Regions from separate parts of the Homo sapiens genome. Here region 2 is linked to region 1. A link means that fine-mapping ties the variant in region 1 to the expression of a gene that starts in the linked region. Tissue or cell type: sun-exposed skin. Region 1 holds a variant in brackets; the other region holds the start of a gene. All regions are shown on one strand. Distances are from middle to middle.

The links. PIP is the estimated chance that this variant, and not a neighbour inherited with it, causes the effect.
Region 2: TCN2 starts here. The variant in region 1 is fine-mapped to the expression of TCN2 in sun-exposed skin (GTEx, PIP 0.99).

The regions. Positions count from the first base shown.
Region 1 is chr22:30,647,574-30,652,767 of GRCh38, forward strand. It overlaps SLC35E4 (solute carrier family 35 member E4), which reads left to right. Exons shown (of 2, transcript NM_001001479.4): 2 at 1-320. It also overlaps a transcript of DUSP18 not described here. Among named protein-coding and RNA genes, the nearest start is that of SLC35E4, 14 kb to the left of the region's middle. The variant C/T (reference allele first, on the strand shown) is at 2,887.
Region 2 is chr22:30,604,769-30,609,896 of GRCh38, forward strand. It overlaps TCN2 (transcobalamin 2), which reads left to right and starts at 2,406. Exons shown (of 9, transcript NM_000355.4): 1 at 2,406-2,627. The coding sequence starts at 2,564. It also overlaps a transcript of PES1 not described here. RefSeq lists enhancers at 2,192-2,771, 2,274-2,568, 4,554-4,848, 4,623-4,902.

The DNA.
Region 1 (5,194 bases):
GTGGGTCCAAGCCTGGCACAGTCCCTGTGCTTGTCAGAGTCATTATTATGATTAATATCAATTACGATGCCAAAAATTGCTGGGCAAACTTTGAAGACCTCAACTTGTTACAATGACGATGATGATGATTCTTGGCGGTTACACAATCCTTCCTCCTGGGGGGGAGGCAGCTAGGAGGCCCAGCAGGGGGGCTTCTATGCTGCTGGGCTCCCCTAGGGAGTTGGGGTAGTCTGTGCCAACTCCAGGCAGCTGCTGTGGCCTCACCCCTGGGCCCCCCAATTTTGGGTCATCCATCCTCAAATACACTATTTTTGCTTGTATGCCTGTGTCATTTGTTGGTTGTACAGAGGGGATATAGGGAGAGTGGTAGGCTTCCCACACAGAAACTAGGACATCCTCCCTTACCCATCGCAGTCTGTCTGGCCCCCCACCCCGAGCCCAGTGCCATTCCCTCAAATCCCTCCACTGGCTGGGCTACCATTGCCCATCTTCTGGACAGTGGCAGTGGCCTCCCCCTTGCTCTGCCTGGCCCCTCTACTCCATCTTACACACAGACCCCTTCACCCAGAGGGATCTCACTAAAACGTGCACATTCTGATGTTCCTCACTGCTCTTGGGACAAAGTCAGAATTTCCTACCCCAGACCCCAACTCACTCAGGACGTGGCACCTGCAGCCTCACCCAGCTTGTCTCCCTTCCCCTGGGCTCTGCCTTCCAGCCTCACCGACTTCTTTCAGTTCCCCGTGATACCAGGCCTGCTCACTGAAACCTTTGTACATGCTGTTCCCTCCGTCCAGTCCCCGCTTCCTACAACAACCTCCTCCCTTCCCACAGCTTAAACCCCTGCCTGGAGGAGAAAACCCAAACATGCAACTCTTTTTAAAAAGAGAAATCCAGGCCGGGCGCGGTGGCTCACACCTGTAATCCCAGTACTTTGGGAGGCCAAGGCGGGCGGATCACCTGATGTCAGGGGTTCGAGACCAGCCTGGCCAACATGCTGAAACACCGTCTCTATTAAAAATACAAAAAAATTAGCCAGGCCTGCTGGCGTGCACCTGAGGCAGGAGAATCGCTGGAACCCAGGAGGCAGAGGTTGCAGTGAGCCGAGATTGTGCCACTGCACTCCAGCTTGGCCAACAAGACCGAAACTCCATCTCAAAAAAGAAAAGAAAAATCCAATCGCTTGAGGCCAGGAGTTGGAGGCTGCAGTGCACTATGATCATGCCACTGCACTCCAGCCTGGGTGACAGAGCAAGACCCTATCTCTTTCAAAAAAAAAAAGGGCTGATGAGGGTCTTGACAAGGGACTGTGCTCAGGAGGCTTGCAGGGGTATAGGGGAGCAGGGCTCCCATGTAGGGAACCTAAGACAGGAGTCCCAACCCCCAGAGCTCCCTGACTCGCCAGCTGGCGTCAGCTTTGTTATTTACCTCTGAGCCTTTCCTTGGCTCTTGTAACACCTAACTCTCCCCAGCCAGCTACCTCTCCTGGAGATCACCTGTTAAAGATGATAAGGACCCAGTTGGAGTGAGAACACCTGGAACCTAATCCTGCTCTGCCCACCTGACTGGGAGCCTCCCTTCCCTAGGCCTCAGCTTCCAGATCTGCAAAATGGAACTGATGATCCCTATGGAGAGGGTTCGAATGAGGAGCGCTGGGCAGGGCCAGGAGTGAGGAAGGAGGTAATGGCACCAACTGGCTCTGCTTTTATCTTGGGGTATTCACCCAACCTTTCTGGAAACCATCTGCAAAATGTCTCCCATTTGTGTGAGGACTAGGAGCTAGACCAGGCTGGGGCTGTGGTCTATGGAGACTGAGATTCAGGGAGGAATCATTCAGATTCAGTAACCAGAATTCGTAAGGGACCACAGTGCCAGCAAGTGCTAGACAGGGCTGAGTAAAGGGCCAGCCCACGGCGGGGTGGGAGTGGGTAGGGAAGGCCTAGGAGGACCGGTATGGGGTTTCCTGGTTCCAGCCTCCGCCCAGGCTGCCTTACAGAAGGGGAAGTCGGCCTGGGCTGAGTCACCTGTCACCCACCCTCTCTATGACTCAGAGATGCCGCTGGCCCAGCCCAGTCCCTGAGCAGCTTGGGTACCTCTGGCCTCCACTCTCAGGCTTTGCCAGGCAGGATGGAGGGATGGATGGCTGTGGTCAAATCCTCCTCGGTGACTCAGGACCCTTTCCCATCCAACTGGCCCCCACTGCCATAGCAGGGACCTCCCTGTACCACCCTCATTTCTAGGCCTTGTGGGATGCTTGGCTAATGAGTGAGCCTCACATCAGATTAAAGCCTGCCCCTGGTGGTTGTGGGGACAGGTAATTGGGGTTGTGTGTGACCTGGGAGCTGGTTTGTCACCAGATTCAGGACCATTAGACATTGAGGTGATTCCCCCAAGGCCACAGCCAAAGCCATGCCTATCACCCCTCCCAGCAGTGGGCACAGAGAGCGCTGGATTGGGAGTCAAAAAGCTTGGGTTTGGTGGGATGTGGTGGCTCACGCCTGTAATCCCAGTACTTTGGGAGTCCGAGGGGGGCGGATCACCTGAAGTCAGGAGTTCAAGACCAGCCTGGCCAACATGGTGAAACCCCGTCTCTACTAAAAATACAAAAATTAGCTGGGCATGGTGGCAGCCGCCTGTAATCCCAGCTACTTGGGAGGCTGAGGCAGGAGAATCGCTTGAACCTGGGAGGCGGAGGTTGCAGTGAGCCGAGATCATGCCATTGCACTGTAGCCTGGGGGACAAGAGCAAGACTTCGTCTCAAAAAAAAAAAAAATTAGACGGACATGGTGGTGGGGACCTGTAATCCCAGCTACTCGGAAGGCTGAGGCAGGAGAATCGCTTGAGCCTAGGAGGCAGAGATTGCTGTGAGCCAAGATTACGCCACTG[C/T]ACTCCAGCTTGTGTGACAGAATGAGACTCCATCTCAAAAAATAAACAAAAATAAAAAAGAACAGGGGCTCTGGAGTTTGACTTGTGCTCGAATCCTGGCTTTGGTACATCTGAGCTCTGTGACCTTGCACAAGGTCCTCTCCACCTGTGCCTCTGTGCATTGAGTGGGGGCAGCAGTGGAACCTAATCCCCCACCAGCTTCTGGAGCTGTAATGGACAAAGGCCTAGGAAGGCCTCAGTCTTATCACAGATGCTTCCACTTCCTCCTCAAGGCTTCTCGTGTTATCTGCCCCACCCCTCCTCAGCCTGCCAGAGCACATTTGAGAGTCCCCCAGGCATGCTCCCGCCTGAGCATAGCAGCGTGGATGCCAAGCCTCCAGCCCCCTTGTCCTGCTTTGGAGGAAGCCTGGGAAGCTGGGTCTGTGCTGGGCATCCTGCCATTGTGGACTTCGAAACAAAGACCTGTCTCAGGCCTAGCTGCCTGGTGCCCCTTCTACCCTCCCCTGGTGGCCCTTGGATTGGCATTCCAGGGGGCCAGGGCAAACAAGGATTGTGAGTCCTTGTTTGGCCTGGCCCCCTGGAAGGAGTAGCTCCTTCATGCTACTCTGCCCTCAAATTAGCTCAGGGATGTCAAATCCTCCACCACTGCACTAAATAACTTCCTGGAAGTAGCACAAAATACTTAATTGAGGGCCACTTAATGGAGGACCACGAGAGGTTTTGAGCCATGATCTTTTATTTCTTTTCTTTTCTTTTTTTGAGACAGAGTTTCGCTCTGTCGCCCAGGCTAGAATGCAGTGGTGCAATCTTGGCTCACTGCAACCTCTGCCTCCCAGGTTCAAGTGATTCTTCTGCCTCAGCCTCCTGAGTAGCTGGGATTACAGGCATATGCCACCACACGTGGCTAATTTTTGTGTGTGTGTGTGTGTGTGTGTGTGTGTATATATATATATATATATATATATATATTTTTTTTTTTTTTTTTTTTTTTTTTTTTTTTGGTAGAGATGGGGTTTCACCATGTTACCCAGACTGGTCTTGAACTCCTGACCTCAAGAAATCCACCTGCCTTGGCCTCCCAAAGTGCTAGGATTACAGGCGTGAGCCACTGCGCTTGGCCAAAATAAACATTTCTTGATAAGTAGACCTTCAATTTAGTCTGGACCCTATGTAGAGAAAAAATTGGAGGGGCTCAAGACAGGAGGCAGGAAGACTAGGGAAGACCTGTTGTTGTGGTCTAGGTAACTCCATGACAGTGGGGACAGTGCTAGGGCAGAGTGGGTATCGGTTGTATTGATTTAGAGTAACAATTTATCTCAAAATCTTATGGCTTAGAGCAACAAACATGTAGTATCTCACAGTTTCAGTGGATCAGGAATTCGGGAGTGGCTTAGTGGGTTGGTTCTGGTTGAGTTTCTCATTAAGTTGTAGTCAAGATGTTGGTCTGAGCTTCAGTCATCTGAAAGCTTGGCTGGGGCTGGAGGATTTGTGGCCCCCCAGTGGGTTCACTTTGCCCACTGCCTAGACAAAGCTGATTTATCAAGACAGGGGAACTGCAATAGAGAAAGAGTAATTCACACAGAGCCTGGTGTGCAGGAGACCAGAGTTTTACTATTACTGAAATCAGTCTCCCCGACCATTCAGGGAGCAGAGTTTTAAGGACAACTTGGTGGGTTGGGGGAAGCCAGTGAGACAGGAGTGCTGATTGGTCAGGGATGAAATCACAGGATGTTGAAGCTGTTTTCTAGTGCCCAGTCAGTTCCTGGGTGGGGGCCACAAGATCAGACGAGCCAGTTTATCAATCTGGGTGGTGCCAGCTGATCCATCAAGGGCAGGGGCTGCAAAATATCACAAGCACTGATCTTAGGAGCAGTTTAGGGAAGGTCAGAATCTTGCAGCCTCCAGCTGCATGACTCCTAAGCCATAATTTCTAATCTTGTGGCTAATGTTAGTCCTATATAGGCAATCTAGTCCCTAGGCAAGAAAGAGGTCTGCTTTGGGAAAGGGCCATTATCATCTTCATTTTAATCTATAAACTATAAACTAAGTTTCTCCGAATGTTAGTTCAGCCTATGCCCAGGAATGAATAAAGACAACTTGGAGATTAGAAGCAAGATGGAGTCAATTAAGTTAGATCTCTTCCACTGTATCAGTCACAATTTTGCAAAGGCGGCTTCAGATTTACATTCAAAATGGGGCATTCACGTGGCTGTTGGCAGGAGGCCTCAGTTCCTTGCCATGTGGGCTTCTCCATAGGGCCCCTTGAGTGTCCTCAACACATAGTAGTTGGTGTCCACCAAAGTGAGTG
Region 2 (5,128 bases), 43 kb before region 1:
TTTCACCACAAATAGAAATCTTGATCTGGCCAGGTGCAGTGGTTCATGCCTGTAATCCCAGCTCTTTGGGAGGCTGAGACAGGAGGATCGCTTGAGCCCAGGAGTTCAAAAATAAAAAAAATAGAAATCCTGATCTAAATGATGTAATCATTTTTGTTTTTCACATTCCCTGACCACATGACCTGAAATAGCACTACCCCTGACCAGTCACTCTATTTCTTTTTTTAATTTTACTTTATTTTTAGGACAGGGTCTCCTTCTGTCGCCCAGACTGGAGTGCAGTGGTCTGATCTCAGCTCACTGCAACCTCAGCCTCCTGGGCTCAAGTGATCCTCCCACTTGTAGCCTCTAGATTAGCTGAGACTTACAGGCACACACCACCATCCCTGGCATTTTTTGGTTTTGTTTGTTTTTTAGAATCAGGGTCTCACCATCTTGCCTAGACTGGTCTCAAACTTGTGGGCTCAAGCAATCCTCCTGCCTTGGCTTCCCAAAGTGCTGGGATTACAGGCATGAGCCACCAGTATTTCTAATATGTATGGGAAATATGCTGTCTTCCTATTCCTACTCCCCCACCCTCTAGCACTGAGTCCAGGTAGGTAGGCAGGGGGGTGTCTCCCTCCTTTACTTCGACACCCTAACTACCTTGGGGATCAGAAGTGACTCTCTGGAAGGATGCTGCTGCTTCTCACCAGAGGCTGACGATAACGAAGGCTATCCTCCATGGCCACCTCCTCCAGGCTGCCTTCCTGGAAATAGGAATCATAATAGTTGTTACTGGAAACAGGCAGAGGGTTGGGGGAGCCAAGGCAGTCCCACCCAGGACCAAGGTGGCTCCATTGCACACACTTCACCATGACTCCCCTGAAGGTCCAAACGTGCGGTTCTGCGGAAGTTGGGCTCCCCACTGGCCTCCCTCCTTCCTCAGAACCTCCAGGGGTGCTCCTCCTAGTGGCCACATCCAGCCTTTCTGACTGGACAACCTATCATTTAAAATTTTCAAGTAGTTCCGTAAACAGACACACGTTGCTGTATTTATTTATGTCAAGGGCTTGGTTTGTGATAAATCAGGCTCAAAAAGATTGTCTTAAAAGAGTGAACCTTGGCAATTTACCATAAAATAATTGCAATGCAGATTGTGCATGGAAATGATTGGAGATATTTTAAGGTCATAGTGTCTTCACAAATTGAGCTGAAAGGGAACTGTTAGGATGATCTTGCCTAACCCTCTCTTCTCACACAGGAAGAACTATTTTAAACTCGAGAGGTTAAGTGACCTGGCCAAAGTCACACAGCCACCACTAGTTAACTCGTATACATTGATTCTCCTGTGGGGCTGGGCAGATGAGGAATCTTTTGTTCTCTTCCCTGTTTGCAGAGATTTTTTTTGAGGTTACTTTCCGAGTTCTGGCAAGTACCCCTGCTTCTGGTAGCTTTGTGTCTCGATTCAATCTCATTCTTTTTATTTTATTTTATTTTTGAGACAGGGTCTCACTTTGTCACCCAAGCTGGAGTGCAGTGGTGTAATCTTGGCTCACTGTAGCCTCCACCTCTTGGGTTCAAGCGATCCTCCTGCCTCAGCCCCCCAAGTAGCTGGGATTACAGACGTCTGCCACCACGCCAGGCTAATTTATGGTTTTTTGTATGTGTTTTTTGTGTTTTTGTAGAGACAGTGTTTCCCCATGTTGCCCAGGCTGGTCTCCAACTCCTGAGCTCAAGTGATCTGCCCGCCTCAGCCTTTCAAAGTGCTAGGATTACAGGTGTGAGCCACCGTGCCCGGACTTAATCCCATTCTTTAACTTGTTTTGTTTTGTCCTCTCCAGGAGGCTCCCAGCCCTTTCGGATTGGTTGAGAAAAGTGGCCTGGCTGGTCTGGGGCCAGCGGCACCCACCCTCCCCTCAATTGCCCAACTCCCCCCCCCCACCGAACTGCCCAACTCCCCCTCCCCAACTGCCCAACTCCCCCACCCCCACAATCCCCTCCCGCCACAACTGAGGGAGGCGGTGCTGAAAAACAGCTGACTCCAGCAATGCTGCTCACGTGACCACTGCAGCTGCAGCTCCCGTTCCACTCCTTGTCCTGGGCTAGGTGGGCACTACCAGGGGCTCCTTTGGTAAGGAGTACCGGGTAGGCACCCGGTCCTGCCAATCCACCACTGGAACAGCTGGGGGGACAGCAGACAGGCACGGTCGGACAGACTTGACAGATCAGGCATCAGGCCCTCTGCGCTGGTCCCGGGCTCTTTAAGCAGGAACGTGAATGGCCTCAAGATGTCTCACATGGTCCCACTAGCCCTCCTCCTCCCTTTGTTCCCTACCTCCAGGAGGGCTGCTCTGCCCTTCCTTCCTCTGTTCTTTGGCCTTATGTTCCCCGCCACCACAGACCTTCCCCCGCCCCACCCCTCTGCAGACTTAGCCGTGCATTGCAGGCATGGAGGATTAATCAGTGACAGGAAGCTGCGTCTCTCGGAGCGGTGACCAGCTGTGGTCAGGAGAGCCTCAGCAGGGCCAGCCCCAGGAGTCTTTCCCGATTCTTGCTCACTGCTCACCCACCTGCTGCTGCCATGAGGCACCTTGGGGCCTTCCTCTTCCTTCTGGGGGTCCTGGGGGCCCTCACTGAGATGTGTGGTGAGTAACTCGCCTCTATCCTGTGCCTCTTTCCTCCTGGGTCCTTAGTGGGGTGGCTAGGGCATAGGATGAGGGAACTTACCTGCCCTTCTAAGCTCCCATAGCAGTTTGGGCTTAGCTGGACCTCAGCATTTAACACATCCTATTGTGATTGATTATATGTTTGACTCCTCACCAGACAAGATCTCCGTTAATTCAGTCATTCGTTCACACATTCATTCAGCGCATACTGAGCCTTTTCTGTGTCAGGCCCAGTGTTAGCCTTTGGGGAACGTGCAAAGCATGAGACAAGTCTAATCCCTGCCATCCTAGAGCTTATGTTCTAGGGAAGGGGGACAGACAAAAGAAATGGTTAGGTGCTCCCACCTGAAATCTCAGCATTTTGGAAGGCTGAGGCGGGAGGGGAGGATCGCTTGAGCTCAACAGTTCAAGGTCAGCCTGGGCAACATAGGGAGACCCCATCTCTACAAAAAATAAAAAAAATTAAAAAATAGCTGGGCATGGGGAAGACTTTCTGAAGACCAAGAGGACACATGGGAGCTGAAACTCGAAGGAAGAAAAGGAGCTGGCAGGAAAGGAGTGGGGGACACACATTCTAGGCAGCAGGAAGTGAGCCTTCGGAGGTCCTGCCTGCTCCAGCTCTGTGCCCCAAGGGGTCTCTTGGAGCACAGTCTCCTGGGACCTGTCTATGAGTCTGAGCTTAGAGGCTCAGGGCTGCTCCTTCAGACAGGAGGCAGAAGGCAGGCTTTGGGAACTTTGGGCCGCCCACGCGCCTTTTCTCCTCCTCTGCACCTAGGATTACGTTGAGCAATACACTTTCACCCCCATGGTCTCTTGAGACCCTGGGGAAACCCTGAGAGGTGGGTGCAGTCATGTCCAGGTGTCAAGTGAAGAAGTCGAGGGTTGGAGGGGCTGAGTGACCCACTCAGGGTGCTCCACCTTTTCCAGAGCTTTGCTGAACTTAGTTTTTAGAACTTGAAGCCTCGTTTGTTTTCGTTTTGTTTTTTGTTGAGAGAGGTTCTCCCTCTGTTGCCCAGGCTGGAGTGCAGTGGCACGATCTTGGCTCACTGCAGCCTCTGCCTTGTGGGTTCAAGTGATTCCCCCACCTCAGCCTCCCAAGTAGCTGGAGACTGCATGTGCATACTACCATGCTTGGCTAATTTTTGTATTTTTTTGTAGAGACAGGGTTTCGCCATGTTGCCCAGGCTGGTCTCGAACTCCTGGGCTCAAGTGAAACTCTTGCGTCGGCCTCCCAAATTGCTGAGATTACAGGCGTGAGCCACCGTGCCCGGCCAGAACTCCAAGCCTCTCATCTGTGTTCCATAAATGCAATCAGACACCTCAGGTCTGGGCCCAGGAACCCCAGCTCTTGGTTCATGTCCGGACAGTCCCCAGGGGAGTTCTGGGTTCAACCAGCAAGAGCTCTTCCTCCTGGCTGATCTGGTCCTCAGCCTTGGACAGTTAGTCCATTAACCTGACCCCACAGGAGCCCCAATCCCTTGGGGTCTGGGGAATCTTGAACTGGGGTTTGGGGTGCAAATATCTGCACTGAGTCACTTAATTGCACCCAGCCTCATTCCTTTATCTGTAAAGTGGGCTAAGAATGCTCCCCTGCCTTCCTCCTCGGTGTAGTACAAGGAAGGATCCCATGACACCTGCTCTCCCAGTTTAAAGCTCTATATGTATGTTGTGAAATTGACAGGGATCGCTGCACAAACGCTAATGCAAAGTGGGCTCCTGTGCTTCCTTTTCTCTTTCTTCTTCTTTTTTTTTTTTTTAATTTTCTTCTAGAGATGAGGTCTCACTATATTGCCCAGGGTTGGTTTCAAACTCCTAGGGTCAAGCGATCCTCCCACCTTGGCCTCCCAAACTGCTGGTATTACAGGCGTGAGCCACTCTGTCTGGCTCCTGTGCTTGTGAATGTCAACAGCAATCAGCCCTTAGCTGGCAGGGCTGGGTTGGTAGGGCGAGAGCTCACCCAAGGCTGCTTTTATTACCCTGCGTGAATCTGCCTGGCCCCTTCCTTCTAAGGAGGTTGCTCTGTGGTTGTCAGTCTCTCCCTTTACAGCTGGATCCTGATCTTTCAGTTTCTAACCCTGTGCTGACTCATCGTGCTGGAAGTGAGAGCCCGGGGTGAGGTCAGGGAACTCCCTTGCGCGTTTCAAGAAAAGGGAAAAGGAAAGAGAGGTGAGGAGGGGGGCAGATGACCAGAGAGACACAGGCTGAGAGAGACTGAGACAGACCCAGAGAGCCTCACACATTGAGTGACAGAGACGGAGAAATGGAGATAGGCACCAAAAAATGGTTCTCAGTGACAGAAAGGGAAAAAAGCAACCCCCCAGTCTCTCTTAACATCTGGTGAGAAACCAGCCATGTGCTTTGGTCTGGGCCCACACAGCAAAGGATTATGTAGGGTTTCATGCTGGTGGATGGTCACCTTATAGCAACAGGTATCTGGGGCTGTCGGGAAAACAGACACGAGGTTGTGGGACCCAGACCCA